Linked DNA regions of Homo sapiens: region 2 is linked to region 1. A link means that fine-mapping ties the variant in region 1 to the plasma level of a protein whose gene starts in the linked region. Region 1 holds a variant in brackets. A gene starts in the other region. All regions are shown on their forward strands.

The links. PIP is the chance, under the fine-mapping model, that this variant and not a neighbour inherited with it causes the effect. The UK Biobank Pharma Proteomics Project read protein levels with antibody pairs (Olink). The fine-mapping took linkage between variants from a reference panel, not from the people measured, so its PIPs are less certain.
Region 2: EPHB4 starts here. The variant in region 1 is fine-mapped to the plasma level of the EPHB4 protein (UK Biobank, PIP 0.97).

The regions. Positions count from the first base shown.
Region 1 is chr13:104,631,203-104,634,232 of GRCh38, forward strand. No RefSeq gene overlaps it. Among named protein-coding and RNA genes, the nearest start is that of DAOA, 830 kb to the right of the region's middle. The variant C/T (reference allele first, on the strand shown) is at 1,487.
Region 2 is chr7:100,826,129-100,828,628 of GRCh38, forward strand. EPHB4 (EPH receptor B4) reads right to left here and starts at 1,395. Exons shown (of 17, transcript NM_004444.5): 1 at 851-1,395. The coding sequence starts at 902. It also overlaps a transcript of SLC12A9 not described here. RefSeq lists an enhancer at 1,399-2,194.

The sequences.
Region 1 (3,030 bases):
TTAGTAAGTTCTAATTTTTTAATTAATTTCTATTTCTGATTGGTTTTGTTTTTCATTCTCATAAACAACACTATATAAAGAACAACCTAAGGACAAATCATAAGATTCATCATTACTTGTTAATAGTACTTATTACACACTATCAAATTGTCTTCTGACAGGTTGATATAATTTATGCTTCAATAAGTGTTAGGGAAAAATGACCATTTATTTTTCTGAAATTCTGTTGGCACTAATTATTATATATTTTTAATTTTATAGATTTGATAGACACATATTTTGTGTATTGTGTAATTGTATTTCTTGGATAATTGGCTGTGACCATTGGATTCATATAGTTATTTGGGTCTTGTGGTGTGTGTATATGTGTGTGTGTGCATGCGTGTGTGACAAATGTTCTTATGATTCAATTTCCATTGATATACTTTTCTTGATGTTTTGAAATGTTTACATATTGATAATTTTTTGATATTTCTCATACGTATATTTTCTTCAGTTTGCTTAATACTTTTTAAACTGTTGATCATGATTATTTTTGCCAGATAGTTTTTAAATAGTAAAATTTATCAAATTCAAGTCTTTATTGTATTGGGTTTACATATATACTAAGTTTCTTAAAGCAACACAAGTTATGAACTACCCGAAAAAAAAGCTCTCTTCCCTCAAAATTTTAATAGCAACAGAAGCCGTCTATAAAATGTTGGTTATAATTATGGTTTTAATCAAAATTAAAGAGTGCTGTGATCTAAATACTCTGTATTTCTCCAAATAAAGACAAAAAAAGAAGAAAAACGATGGAATCATTATCAGTCCTGTGTTCTACAATATCTCTTCATTTTTTTTCTGTTTTGTCTGTTTCAAATGCTTCATTAGAAATTTCTTCTAAAATAAAGAAAATAAGCCCACACACACATATATTACACTATATAATATTATAAAAGTAATGAATTTTTTCACGAGGTAAAATCAGGTTTAAAATATAAGGCATTATAAAACTAGAAATACTGTTTTAAAAAGCAGTATTTTAAAAAGATTTTTAAATAATAAAATCTTAATTTTATTATTTAAAAAAGGAAAGTTATAAAAAGCAGTATTTTAAAAAGATTTTTAAATAATAAAATCTTAATCTTATTATTTAAAAAGATTTTTAAATAATAAAATCTTAATTTTATTATTTAAAAAGATTTTTAAATAATAAAATCTTAATTTTATTATTTAAAAAGATTTTTAAATAATAAAATCTTAATTTTATTATTTAAAAAAGGAAAGTTATAGTGTAAGCAGTCTGTCAAAAATTCAAGTAATTTTGTCAATAGAAAACATGTGTCCTGCTATTTTAAGAGACACAGGTATATGAATCATGCCCATGTATTTTATATATATATATATATATATATAATATATATGCCTGTGTGTATCTAATTCACATATGAGATAATCAAAGACAGAAGTTCAGAGACAGAAGAGTGAGATGACACATAAGAGT[C/T]AATGGCCACTTCTTAGATCATCTTCAGAAACACTCCAAATATAATTACCTTCGTCTTCATTAAACATTAAAAATAATAAACATTGCCTTGTTTTCTTGTTCCTGCATGATATCAGTTTACACTTTAAAAGGCATTGCAAGAAATTATGAATGAAAAGATAACACAGTGGCTTTCAACTGCCTCAGTAAACCATGCACACTGCCAACATTTTTGTCACCCATAATTCTCCCATAAACATGGGCCTCTCCTTTCATTATGCAGGCTGTCATGCTTTATTGAACCACATCATTTCACCTAATTAAAATAAGCAGTATGTTGTTTCCTCCCCCACTCTTTTTTTCTTTAGCTGGACAAATGCCAGTAATTATATTTAGAGTATCCTAAGTGGACACCACATTAAATATTCATTTTGGTGCTCCTCTGCACAATCAAACATCTCTCCTGCTGCTCTTTTAAATGTCAATATTCATTTTATTTATAAGATCTAAAAAAAAGTGCACTTTTAAAAGTAAAAATGTGTAAGGTTCATTGAGTTGTTTGTTATGCCAGCAAAGTAGGTTTGTTAGCTTCCATAAAGTTTGTAGGGTAACTTAACGAAGTAAAATCAGGTTTAAAATGTAAGGCATTATAAAACTAGAAATACTGTTTTAAAAAGCATTCTCTTTCTTTGAACCACTGAATCTCAATTTTATTATTAAAAAATGAAAGTCATAGTGGAAGCAATTTCTCATAAATTCAAGTAATTTTGTCAATAGAAAACATGTGTCCTGCTGTTTTAAGCACAGGTATATGAATCACGCCTGTGTAAGCAAGTAGTTGCTAAATTGTTTAATTTTTTTTTAAGCTAATAAAAGTTTGTTTTAGGCAGCCAGTCTTATAGGAAAACATTTTATTCTCTCTTTGTTTCTTCCTTATAATAAAAGTGATGGGTCTTTAACCTTATCACTTTCTGTGCTCGAATCATATTGCAACTACTCACCATCATTTTGGAAAGAAATTCTAGTATAATTCAGCCGAGGTGGTAGTGGATACACAGCTGAAATCCTGCATAACTGCAGCTCATCCTGCAAAGATACTTTCTAAGAAATTTCTACAAAATAAGGGCGAGCTTCCCTTTGTGCTTGAAATCAATGTAATTTTCTGTGAGAGAGGAAACGCTCCTCAACAGTATGCTCTTTGAGTTGAAAAAGGCAAAAGACGTATAGCCTAGCACCTACCAGCAATTCTGTCACCCTGACTGTAACTTCAGTTTCATCTGGTTTTGCATAAGGCCATAGCAGTTTCCTGATTCACAGGTAAACTAGCCCCAGGAAGGCACCTATGAGAATTATAGCAGCTGTAGGTTAATTTCCTATTAAAACAAGATGGTTGTGTAAACTAGGCTTAAAATTTACCACATCAACACCTTTTTATTCCATTTGTTCGCTTCTATTAACAGTTCTTACCTTGCAACTGAATTTCATTTTCAGACAGATTTAAAATCACACTGAATCCATTTGCACAGATGGATAGGCAGACACAGAAAGCAGGCAGCTTACAAATG
Region 2 (2,500 bases), not on the chromosome of region 1:
GGGACACAGGAGAGTTTCTAGGGCTCTTGGCTCCCCCTTTAGGGGACCAGGAGGGACAGCGATCCATGGCCAAAGAAATGCTTGGAGAGACCAGGAGGTGGGAGATAGACTGGGTTAGTTAGGGCGATGTGGGGGCTGTGTAGGTCAGTTTCTACCTGGGGGCTGTGTAGGTCAGTTTCTACCCGCTCCTAGGTCTCAAGGGAAGCCCGGGACTCACCTGGGGCCGGGGTCTAGACCGCATTTAAAGGGATGGGGTGCAGCCTGTAGAAACCAAGGAGCCACCCTATACCAGGGGCAGGAGCAGTGGGCGGGAGAGCGGTTTGGGGGTTTGCTGTGTGAATGCAAAGGAGGCCATCCTGTTGCAGGAGTGTGGAACTGGAGGATCAAGGTGTGATCGCTAAGGAATTGGCGCTGGGGGTCGTTTTAGGGCCTAGCACGAAAAGTTGTGCCTTGTCTGCTGTTGCTTCTCCAGAAACCTTCCCTCATGTACGGCGGGAGGTGGGACTGGGACAGAAACTTTGCAGATAGTTTTGAATAGTGGGGTAGGGAGGAAAGGAAAGGCAGCCAGGGGCGTATGTAATCAGCAGTGAGAGTTCGGGGAGCCCGGGCAGGGGAATGTCCCGGGTCGTAGCCAGACTCCATCTCTTTCCCAAACAAAAGAAAACTCCACTACCCGTCGGGCGCCTCTTCCCCGCCCCCCTCCCGTTCCAGCACTATCGGTCCGAAGTGTTTGGGACTGCAGTGCCCGGGTAGGGGTAGTCAGAGGCCGGCCCCTCCACTCCGAGGCCCAGATGTTGGGGGGGAGGTCCCAGGAGTGACGGGGTGCGCCCCCCCCCGCAAGGAAACTCACCTTCCAAAGCTGCGGCCAACGAAGCCCAGCAGAGCAGCACCCGGAGCTCCATGGCGCCGCCTCACTCGGGTAGGATCCGAACTGAGTTTGGGGGGCCCTCGCCCCCCCAGGTCTGACTCTCCCTGGGCGGGTGGACGCCGATACTCCGCGCGGGACTCCTCGTCGGGGCCCTCAGCGCGGGCCCATGCGAGCGTGCGGGGCACCGGGCGGCGGCGCCAAGTGTGGCCCCGCGTCTGTGCCGCGCGCGCGGGCGGCGGGCCCGGAGCGTGCTGGCAGTGGCCGCGCCGGGCGGGCGCGCAGCAAGACGTGGCTGGAGTTGGGGTCCCTCCGGGGCCTCGGGGTCCCGCCCCGGGTGGCGGGGGCTGAGCCGGCCGCTCGCGGTCTCCCCCCCTCCCTGGAGTGGCTCTGCTCGCGCCGCCGGGCCGAGTGCTCTCCTCGCGGGCGGGGATGGTGGGAGCCCGAGCGGGGACGGAGCGGGAGGGAGGGAGACTGCGGCGCGGAGCCGGGCGGGCCGGGCCGGGCAGGGGCTGAGCTGCGCTGGAACTGGGCCGGGCGGCGCCGGGCCCGGGAGGGAGGGGCGCGCGGGGGGCGGGGGCAGCTCTCCCAACGCGGGGGCTCCGCGAGTGAGCCCCGGGCGCGCTGATTGGAGCTCACGCTACTGAATAATTCATGAGGGAAGCGGAGAGGGGCACCGAGTGGAGCAGGTCGGGAAGTTGAGAGAAAGTTTGGAGAAGGGGGAGGGGCGGCGGGTGAGGAACCCCGGGACCGCCCAGATGTGCGCCGTGGCGGTGCGCGCTGTCCAGGACCGAGCATGTCGGGGCTGGGGCCCAGGGACCCCCGGGACAGGCCCGAACCCGGCTGGCACCAGGGAGCAGAGAAAACACACACCCAGCAGCAACACGGAGGGCCGCCCAGGCGTGCACGTAAATGTTCACCGCGCACACAAAGCCCGCTCTGACCTTGCTGCGGACTCTAGATGCCGCTCTTGGATGCGCCCACCACCCTCTAGTGGGCGCAGGGACTGCGTTTTGGGGGAAAAGGAAGGAAAAGGGAGTAGAAGCTTTGGAGAATTGACGGCCGCCCAGGGGGCCTCAAGGAGCAATCCCAGTTTGGATAGCCTTGCAGCGAACGTTCACACAGTCACCCCATAAACATTCAGTGTTGGGGACCTACTGTGCGCGCAACCAAGCCCTGAAAAATGTCCAGAGGAGGCGCGCACTAAGCTGCGCTAGGGAGTAGAGAAAAATCGAGGAAACAACGGTAAAGAAAAGGTGGGTGTGGCGGGCGCGGTGGCTCACGCCTGTAGTCCCAGCATTTTGGGAGGCAGAGGCAGGCGGATCATTTGAGGTCAGGAGTTCAAGACCAGCCTGGCCAACATGATGAAACCCCGTCTCTACTAAAAATACAAAAATTAGCTGGGCATGGTGGCGCGCGCCTGTAATCCTAGCTACTCGGGAGGCTGAGGCAGGAGAATTGCTTGAACCGGGACCTAGGAGGCGGAGGTTGCAGTGAGCTGGGAGCTGAGATCGCGCCACTGCACTCCAGCCTGGGCTACAGAGTGAGACGAAATCTCAAAAAAAAAAAAAAAAAAAAAAAAGGTGGGTGTGTCCGAGAGGGTGAGGGGTCCGGCTAGATCTCCAAATCGCCCTT